Regions from separate parts of the Homo sapiens genome. Here region 1 is linked to region 2. Evidence: fine-mapped expression QTL. A gene starts in region 2. The other region holds a variant in brackets. All regions are shown on one strand. Distances are from middle to middle.

The links. PIP is the estimated chance that this variant, and not a neighbour inherited with it, causes the effect.
Region 1: its variant is fine-mapped to the expression of LRRC55 in iPS cells (PhLiPS, PIP 0.95).

Annotation. Positions count from the first base shown.
Region 1 is chr11:56,938,483-56,943,697 of GRCh38, reverse strand. All of the region lies in intron 1 of LOC105369310 (a long non-coding RNA gene), which reads left to right. Among named protein-coding and RNA genes, the nearest start is that of OR5AK2, 48 kb to the left of the region's middle. The variant C/T (reference allele first, on the strand shown) is at 2,897.
Region 2 is chr11:57,179,050-57,184,264 of GRCh38, reverse strand. It overlaps LRRC55 (leucine rich repeat containing 55), which reads right to left and starts at 2,312. Exons shown (of 2, transcript NM_001005210.4): 1 at 1,582-2,312. The coding sequence starts at 2,242. The region is part of intron 4 of LOC105369309 (a long non-coding RNA gene); the gene reads left to right. RefSeq lists a silencer at 1,616-1,910.

The DNA of each region.
Region 1 (5,215 bases), 240 kb after region 2:
CCAGGAATTGAACTCAGCTCTGCACCAAGCGGACCTAATAGACATCTACAGAACTCTCCACCGCAAATCAACAGAATGTACATTTTTTTCAGCACCACACCACACCTATTCCAAAATTGACCACATACTTGGAAGTAAAGCTCTCCTCAGCAAATGTAAAAGAACAGAAATTATAACAAACTATCTCTCAGACCACAGTGCAATCAAACTAGAACTCAGGATTAAGAATCTCACTCAACATGGGCAAGGACTTCATGTCTAAAACACCAAAAGCAATGGCAACAAAAGACAAAATTGACAAATGGGATCTAATTAAACTAAAGAGCTTCTGCACAGCCAAAGAAACTACCATCAGAGTGAACAGGCAACCTACAAAATGGGAGAAAATTTTTGCAAGCTACTCATCTGACAAAGGGCTAATATCCAGAATCTACAATGAACTGAAACAAATTTACAAGAAAAAAACAAACAACCCCATCAAAAAGTGGGCAAAGGACATGAACAGACACTTCTCAAAAGAAGACATTTATGCAGCCAAAAAACACATGAAAAAATGCTCATTATCACTGGCCATCAGAGAAATGCAAATCAAAACCACAATGAGATACCATCTCACACCAGTTAGAATGGCAATCATTAAAAAGTCAGGAAACAACAGGTGCTGGAGAGGATGTGGAGAAATAGGAACACTTTTACACTGTTGGTGGGACTGTAAACTAGTTCAAGGATTGTGGAAGTCAGTGTGGCGACTCCTCAGGGATCTAGAACTGGAAATACCATTTGACACAGCCATCCCATTACCAGGTATATACCCAAAGGACTATAAATCATGCTGCTATAAAGACACATGCACACGTATGTTTATTGCGGCATTATTCACAATAGCAAAGACTTGGAACCAACCCAAATGTCCAACAATGATAGACTGGATTAAGAAAATGTGGCACATATACACCATGGAATACTATGCAGCCATAAAAAATGATGAGTCCATGTCCTTTGTAGGGACATGGATGAAATTGGAAATCATCATTCTCAGTAAACTATCGCCAAGAACAAAAAACCAAACACCGCATATTCTCACTCATAGGTGGGAATTGAACAATGAGATCACATGGACACAGGAAGGGAAATATCACACTCTGGGGACTGTTGTGGGGTGGTGGGAGGGGGGAGGGATAGCATCAGGAGATATACCTAATGCTGGATGACGAGTTAGTGGGTGCAGCGCACCAGCATGGCACATGTATATATATGTAACTAACCTGCACAATGTGCACGTGTACCCTAAAACTTAAAGTATAATAAAAAAAAAAGAATCTCACTCAAAACCGCTCAACTACATGGCAACTGAACAACCTGCTCCTGAATGACTACTGGGTACATAACAAAATCAAGGCAGAAATAAACATGTTCTTTGAAACCAATGAGAATAAAGATGCAACATAGCAGAATCTCTGGGATGCATTCAAAGCAGTGTGTAGAGGGAAATTTATAGCACTAAATGCCCACAAGAGAAAGCAGGAAAGATCCAAAATTGACACCCTAACATCACAATTAAAAGAACTAGAAAAGCAAGAGCAAACACATTCAAAAGCTAGCAGAAGGCAAGAAATAACTAAAATCAGAGCAGAACTGAAGGAAATAGAGACACAAAAAACCCTTCAAAAAATTAACAAATCCAGGAGCTGGTTTTTTGAAAGGATCAACAAAATAGACTGCTAGAAAGACTAATAAAGAAAAAAAGAGAGAAGAATCAAATAGATGCAATAAAAAATGATAAAGGGGATATCACCACCGATCCCACAGAAATACAAACTACCATCAGAGAATACTACAAACACCTCTATGCAAATAAACTAGAAAATCTAGAAGAAATGGATAAATTCCTTGACACATACACTCTCCCAAGACTAAACCAGGAAGAAGTTGAATCGCTGAATAGACCAATAACAGGATCTGAAATTGTGGCAATAATCAATAGCTTACCAACCAAAAAGAGTCCAGGACCAGATGGATTCACAGCCAAATTCTACCAGAGGTACAAGAAGGAACTGGTACCATTACTTGTGAAATGATTCCAATCAATAGAAAAAGAGGGAATCCTCCCTAATTCATTTTATGAGGCCAGCATCATCCTGATACCAAAGCCGGGCAGAGACACAACCAAAAAAGAGAATTTTAGACCAATATCATTGATGATCATTGATGCAAAAATCCTCAATAAAATACTGGAAAACCGAATCCAGCAGTACATCAGAAAGCTTATCCACCATGACCAAGTGGGCTTCATCCCTGGGATGCAAGGCTGGTTCAATATACGCAAATCAATAAATGTAATCCAACATATAAACAGAACCAAAGACAAAAGCCACATGATTATCTCAAAAGATGCAGAAAAGGCCTTTGACAAAATTCAACCACCCTTCATGCTAAAAACTCTCAATAAATTAGGTATTGATGGGACCTATCTCAAAATAATAAGAGCTATCTATGACAAACCCACAGCCAATATCATACTGAATGGGCAAAAACTGGAAGCATTCCCTTTGAAAACTGGCACAAGACAGGGATGCCCTCTCTCACCACTCCTATTCAACATAGTGTTGGAAGTTCTGCACAGGGCAATTAGGCAGAAGAAGGAAATAAAGGGTATTCAATTAGGAAAAGAGGAAGTCAAATTGTCCCTGTTTGCAGACGACATGATTGTATATCTAGAAAACCCCACTGTCTCAGCCCAAAATCTCCTTAAGTTGATAAGCAACTTCAGCAAAGTCTCAGGATACAAAATCAAGGTACAAAAATCACAAGCATTCTTATACACCAACAACAGACAAACAGAGAGCCAAATCATGAGTGAACTCCCATTCACAATTGCTTCAAAGAGAATAAAATA[C/T]CTAGGAATCCAACTTACAAGGGACGTGAAGGACCTCTTCAAGGAGACCTACAAACCACTGCTCAATGAAATAAAAGAGGATACAAACCAATGGAAGAACATTCCATGCTCATGGGTAGGAAGAATCAATATCGTGAAAATGTCCATACTGCCCAAGGTAATTTACAGATTCAATGCCATCCCCATCAAGCTACCAATGACTTTCCTCACAGAATTGGAAAAAACTACTTTAAGGTTCATATAGAACCAAAAAAGAGCCCACATCACCAAGTCAATCCTGAGCCAAAAGAAGAAAGCTGGAGGCATCACACTACCTGACTTCAAACTATACTACAAGGCTACAGTAACCAAAACAGCATGGTACTGGTACCAAAACAGAGATATAGATCAATGGAACAGAACAGAGCCCTCAGAAATAACGCCGCATATCTACAACTATGTGATCTTTGACAAACCTGAGAAAAACAAGCAATGGGGAAAGGATTCCCTATTTAATAAATGGTGCTGGGAAAACTGGCTAGCCATATGTAGAAAGCTGAAACTGGAACCCTCCCTTACACCTTATACAAAAATTAATTCAAGATGGATTAAAGACTTAAATGTTAGACCTAAAACCACAAAAACCCTAGAAGAAAACCTAGGCAACACTATTCAGGACATAGGCATGGGCAAGGACTTCATGTCGAAAACATAAAAAGCAATGGCAACAAAAGCCAAAATTGACAAATGGGATCTAATTAAACTAAAGAGCTTCTGCACAGCAAAAGAAACTACCATCAGAGTGAACACGCAACCTACAGAATGGGAGAAAATTTTTGCAACATACTCATCTGACAAAGGGCTAATATCCAGAATCTGCAATGAACTCAAACAAATTTACAAGAAAAAAACAAACAACCCCATCAAAAAGTGGGCAAAGGACATGAACAGACACTTCTCAAAAGAAGACATTTATGCAGCCAAAAAACACATGAAAAAATGCTCACCATCACTGGCCATCAGAGAAATGCAAGTCAAAACCACAGTGAGATACCATCTCACACCACTTAGAATGGCAATCATTAAAAAGTCAGGAAACAACAGGTGCTGGAGAGACTGTGGAGAAATAGGAACACTTTTACACTGTTGGTGGGACTGTAAATTAGTTCAACCATTGTGGAAGTCAGTGTGGCGATTCCTCAGGGATCTAGAACTAGAAATACCATTTGACTCAGCCATCCCATTACTGGGTATATACCCAAAGGACTATAAATCATGCTGCTATAAAGACACATGCACACGTATGTTTATTGTGACACTATTCACAATAGCAAAGACTTGGAACCAACCCAAATGTCCAACAATGATAGACTGGATTAAGAAAATGTGTCACATACACACTATGGAATACCATGCAGCCATAAAAAATGATGAGTTCATGTCCTTTGTAGGGAAATAGATGAAGCTGGAAACCATCATTCTCAGCAAACTATCGCAAGAACAAAAAACCAAACACCGCATGTTCTTACTCATAGGTGGGAACTGAACAATGAGAACACTTGGACACAGGAAGGGGAATATCACACACCGGGGCCTGTCATGGAGTGGGAGAAGTAGGGAGGGAAAGCATTAGGACATATACCTAATGTAAATGACGAGTTAATGGGTGCAGGACACCAACATGGCACATGTGTACTTATGTAACAAACCTGCACATTGTGCACATGTACCCTAGAACTTAAAGTATAATAGAAAAAAAATAAAGTTAGCTGAGGCTGGGCGTGGTGGCTCCTGCCTGTAATCCCAGTATTTTGGGAGGACAAGGTGGGCAGATCTCCTGAGGTCAGGAGTTCAAGACCAGCCTGGCCAACATGTTGAAACCCTGTCTCTACTGAAAATACAAAAATTAGGCAGATGGGGTGGTGCATGCCTGTAATTCCAGCTACTTGGGAGGCTGAGGCTGAAGAATCGCTTGAACCCGTGAGGCAGAGGTTGCAGTGAGCCGAGGTCGGGCCATTGCGCTCCTGCCTGGGTGACAGGGCAAGGCTCCATCTCAAAAAATAAAATACAATAAATAAAATAAAATAAAATAAATAAAATTAGCCATCTTTGCTAATCGTTGACTTCAAGTTTTGGTTGGAGATTTGAGCTTCTGTTGTAATGTTTTGGATACAATTACTGGACCTAGGAAGTCTTTATAAAACATGGACTGCTAAACAGTTTGCTGTAATGAAATGTAGCTAGTAAGTTTTGTAATTAGTAGATAACATTCGAATTTTCCATGTGCAGACCTTGTTCACTAATTAAACAGCTATTTTAATTACCACCTATTAAATTCCT
Region 2 (5,215 bases):
TGTTATTAGTGCACAGGAGAGAGAGGGAAGGCGCGCCTGCCAAGTTTGAGCAAGTTGAGAGATTGCTCCAGGCATCCTCCCACTCCTGCCCTCCACCATCGCCCCATCCCAGTCCCCAGCTATTTTGATGCAAGAGAATTTCCTCCTACAGCTCTGTGGAAACACTGGAATCGTGACCCACAGCCCTCCCCAAACTATTTTGGTCTTGGGCTCCCCACTCAGTCCTCCTCTCCCTTTTACCACATTCAGCATTGCTTCTTCTCAACATGGGCTGAGCTCAGGTTCTGGGAAAGCCCCTTGGATAGGGCCTTCAGCTACTACTTCTGGGTTCTTGTGCCAAGTCTTGGTGTTGTCACACAGGAGAGCTGGTGGCTAGGGCCACAGCTGAACATTGCCTGCCTCTGGGTCAGGCTCAGATGCCACTGGGTTGGGATGCCCATCAAACCTATGTGATTTGGGCTTCTTCAGGCCCCAGTCCACCCTCCAGTTGGGATTGGCTGGTTGAGTTGCCGCATCTCAGTCTTCCTTTCAGCTCCCTACCCTGTGCCCAAAGTTTACACTGCTCAGGGCCTTGAGTTTGAGGAAAGCCAGGTTCTCGTAGCTGAGATCCAGGTCTTGGAGCTGCATGAGGTCCTGGAACTCTACTGCAGCCCTTTGGCCAGTCCAGGACTCAGGTTCTGACTCTTCCGGCAGGCCAGAACCTGACTCTTCAGGATATAGTCAGGGAGATTGCCAGGACTCAAATCCTGGCTTCAACACTTAGCAGCTGTGTAACTTCCAACAAGCTACTGAACCTCTCTGTGCCTCAGCTTCCTCCTCTGTAGAGTGGCAATCTCATTAGTGTTCTTCTGGGGATAGGAAGAGATAGGTAAAGCTGCTTAAGAGAGGGCCTGGTAAATAGCAAGTACTAAGGTCTCAAGTTCCTCCTGGAACATATTGGCTGTCACGCAACTTAAGCTATTGCAGCTCTGTTGAGATTGTGTTAGTCATTACTATTTATACGAGAGTTTCCAACACTTGGAATGCTAAAAAAGCATTCTGGTAGATTAGAACAGGGCTTAGAAGTCAGATAAATCTAGGTTTTATTCATGGTCCTGCCACTTTTTAATTTTTTAATTTGTATTTTTTTCATGGCCCTGCCACTTTCTAAGTGTGTGATTCCTGTCAAGCCTTTTTATTGTTCTAAATCTCAGTTTCTTCACCTGGAAAATGGGTATAATAAAAATGGGGGTCTCATGAGATAATGGATGCCAAGATCTTAGGTCATGGTGAAAGCTCAATAAAAACCACCAACCATAGGCTATTCTCACTTGTCTACTATCCGTCTGCCTCATTAGGTCATGAGCAGCGCAGTGGTGAGGGACATCTATTTAATGAATGAATGGGCCCTCGGTGCCTCACATGCACTGGAAGGATTCTACAAACAACCTGTTGGCCGAGCTGGTGTACAAAGAGGCAAGCCCACATTAGAAAATGCAGTAGGTGCTTTCTGGCTCTAAGTTCCCCCGCTTTCTTTGGAGCCTTTGCTTCCCATTGAGGCAAGCCCTCCCTGTTGACTGCCCCGTTCTGCCCCTCTATTACCTGCTGTACAGCGCTGGATCCGGTTTCGCAGCCACTTCAGCAGGGGTTCCATGGTGCAGCCACACACCCAGGGATTGCCACCGATCTGCAGGGTCACCAGCCCCGGTAGGCCCTCAAGAGCCTCCAGGCTGAGGAAGGCCAGGCCCCCATAACTGAGGTCCAGGTCTCGGAGCTGCATGAGGCCCTGAAAGGCCTGGGGATGCACCCTCCGCAGCCAGGGGTTGTGGCTCAGGTCGATGTGGACTAGCCCATGGGCCTCCTGGAACATGTCGGCTGGCACATGGCTGAAATTGTTGTAGCTCAGGTCCAAGTGTGCCAAGCGCTTGGCATGGAGGAAGAGGCCCCGGGGCAGCTCCATTAAGGAGTTGTTGTGCAAATCCAGCACCTGGAGCTCCATGTAGCATGTGAGGTAGCCAGGCGGCACTGCTGTGATGCGGTTGTGGGCCAGGCTGAGGTTTCGGGTGTCCATTGGCAGGTCTGGGGGCACGGAGAATAGCCGCTGGCTGCTACAATCCACCACCTGGTTACGGCATGTGCAAAGGACGGGGCAGCTGGTGCCGGCATCCGAGTGCATCAACCCGGCTGCCAAGAGGAGGGAGATCAGCAGCATTGCTGGGTGGGGTGGCCCGGGCCAGGGAAGCTGGGCCCAAGTGTCACCCATCTTAGGCAGCAGGCAACAGCAGTGCTGGAGGGAGCCCATGAGGACTGTGTCCATGGAATCGAGAGTCTGTGACACAGGAAGGCAGCTACATCTGGGGCCAGCGTCTGTGAAGGTGGGGCTTCTGAGCATGTGGTATCATGGCTAGGGACTTTCCCAGGAGCCTCTGAGCACCAGAGGGCTTCCTGAGATCCACGGGAGGTCCCCTTCCGGAGCCTAGGGGGCAAGACACCCAGTTGAGGTCCCCTAGGGTCTGGAATGATGATCAAAACCTGAGAAAGGGAGGGGACAAGAATGGGGCTAGGTCAGCTGCCAGCAAGTCCTGGAAGAGTTCCTGCAGATCTTTTGTGTCTCTCTCACCCATGCCTGCTGGATGTTTCCTCTTGGTGCTGTGTCTGGGAGGGAGGGGCTGAAGGAGATGAAACGTGCCCTTTAAAGATCCTTGGCACTTCTTCTGAGAAAACTTAAGTCCTGTCCCACGTCTGGGACTGATTAGGAAGCCGGGGCTGCACCTGGGTCTTCAGTGTTGAAGGTCTCAGAGGCCATTTGTCCTGGTGGCCTGGTGGGCTGGAGTCCAAGGGGGTCCCAGGGTGGGTGTTTTGGGAAAAGGGCCCGGGAGGAAGTGAGTCTCCATGGGCCTCCTAAAAGCCTGAGAGTCCTCAGCCTCAGTGGCTGCTGGAATCCCCAGGAAGCCTCTTTTTTTCCCAAAGAGAGGAGGACCCCAGGTGATGCCCACTGTCTGGGCCTCTGGGGCCAGAAGAAGTCATGAGTCCTGAAGGTGCAGGCTGAGTGTCAGCTGGCAGAGCTCTGGCATCTTCTCCAAGCCAGTGCCTTCCTCAGCGCAGTTCTGTGTTCAGCAGGTGGAGGCCAAATTCCCTCTGTCAACAAGGAAAGCACTCAGGCAGAGAAATCCTGTGCCCTTGACACTCCCTTGTCCCTTCACCTAGGACGCTTGGCTTATCTTTGTCTCTTTCCTTTGCTCCCCCAACCACAAAGTTCTCTGCTTACTGTCTGTCAGGTGTGGGCCATGGTAGGTTCAGACCCCAGGCTCACATTGCTGTTACCCACGAGCCCTCCCTGACCCAACCTGCAGCCATCCTCCTCTGGGTTCCTGTCTTGGGTTAGATGCATTTTCTTCTTCTTCTCATAACCCCACCCTCATTAGTACCAAACACGCCACCCTTGAACAACTCCCTAAGAAAAATCTGCATCCACACTCTGGGGGTTTGCACACCCCTTTCAAACACTCTAAGCACTCCTCTCTCTCTCACACGCACACACACACACTCACTCACACACCATTCTGTGACTCCCCCGTATTTTGCCCTGCCCCGTGCTCACGCCTCGCGGTTTTCGCTCCAGCTTCCTTCTGCACAGGCGATTCTGCAGACCCCTCCCCAGTCGACCCCCAGCATCTTTCGCCCCCCTCTCAGCGCACACCCTTCATCCCAGCATCCCTTTCCACACACTGCACTCTCCTCGCCGCCCCCAGCAGAGGGACCGAGAGTGATGCCACGCCCAGAGCCTCAGCCCTCGCGCCCCGCGCCCTCTCGCTTCTCCCTTGCCCACCTGCTGTCCTCGGTCCTCCCCTCACCCTCGGCCTGGCGCTGCCTATTTTCCTACCGCTTCAAGCCTCAATCCCGCCCACCTGGAAATCACCCCAGCTCCCCTTCATGCAGACTCATTTTTCTAAGCCCCAGGTCTCCCCCTCGCACTCCCACAGGCCCCAGGAGCCTACTCACTCCGTTCCAAGGACACAGCCATCAATCTGCGGCAGACGCGGGTCTCCCTCCCTCCTCCTGGAATCCCCGCTTGCTCCTTGCTTGCTTCAGAACAGATTGCCTCCCAGGCTGTTCCCCTCCCCCGGCCTCTCCTCCTCCTTGTCTCCCGGATCCCAGGCCAGCATCTTCTATGATTTCCCGTCCTGCGGTCCCCCTGCCCCTTCTTTCACCCAAAGGGAAATCACAGAGACAGGATGCTCGGAAGAAAGTTCACAGAATCTGAATGCTTCTTTCTGAAACTCAGCTGGTGCCCAGGCTGCTGGGGTATAAGGCTTCCGCCAGAGCCAGGTCTTCCCCCTCCCTCCCCCCTTCCCACCCTCTCTCTCTCCCTCCCTCCATCCCTCCCCCAGTTCTCTCCCTTTTTCACTCCCCTTTTTTTTCCTCGAGGGCCAGGTACTGACGTTTCGCTGTCTCTTAGCAACTGCCTCCACATTTTTGAGCAACAGGAGAACTGGCTGTGGACCCCACCACAAAGAGAGAGGAGAGAAGGAAGCACAGGGCAAAATTCACAGCCGCCCACAGGATCCTGGGGATAGAGCGAGGAGAAGAGGGGGAGACAAGGGTGGGCAACTGGACAGGGGCAGAGAAAGAGGATCAGGCAGGGCCCAGTGGGAGAGGTCGTAGTAGGGGCAAGGTGTGGACCTGGAATCGGAGACAGAGGAGGGATGGCTTAAGGGCATCAGATCCAGAAGAAAAAACTAAGAGGGCTTGCAATGAATGGAGAAAGGGACTTAGTGGGGGATGGGGCGAGTGAAGAATGGGGACATTGAAAACATGAATAGGAATGGAAACAAAAAAGGGATGTGAATATGATAAGTTTGCTCACTTGATGGGATATATCTTTGTAGTCACCATATAATATCTACTTACCTGGGTTGGAAGGTATTTTGGGCTCCAGCTACCAGGTGATTGGCTCAGGGCTTGTTAGGGACCATTATTGCAGGAAAGACCTTTTATATGTTCCCTGATTGTCCCTAAGTCCTGACCCCATGGGCTTTCTGGGGCTAGGAGGCTTGGCTGGAGTAGACCAATTTCCCCTTGGCTTGGGATATGAGAACTTTTGGGGTCCAAAAGGCCAACTACTTGGCCAGGTGGGGGCACCTGGGGCTCTACAGACACTTGGGTCTGTTAAGGGGAAAGGAAGCTTGTGATCCTTTCTTCTTTCTCCAGGCCTAAGGGATTCTGTCTGTTGTCT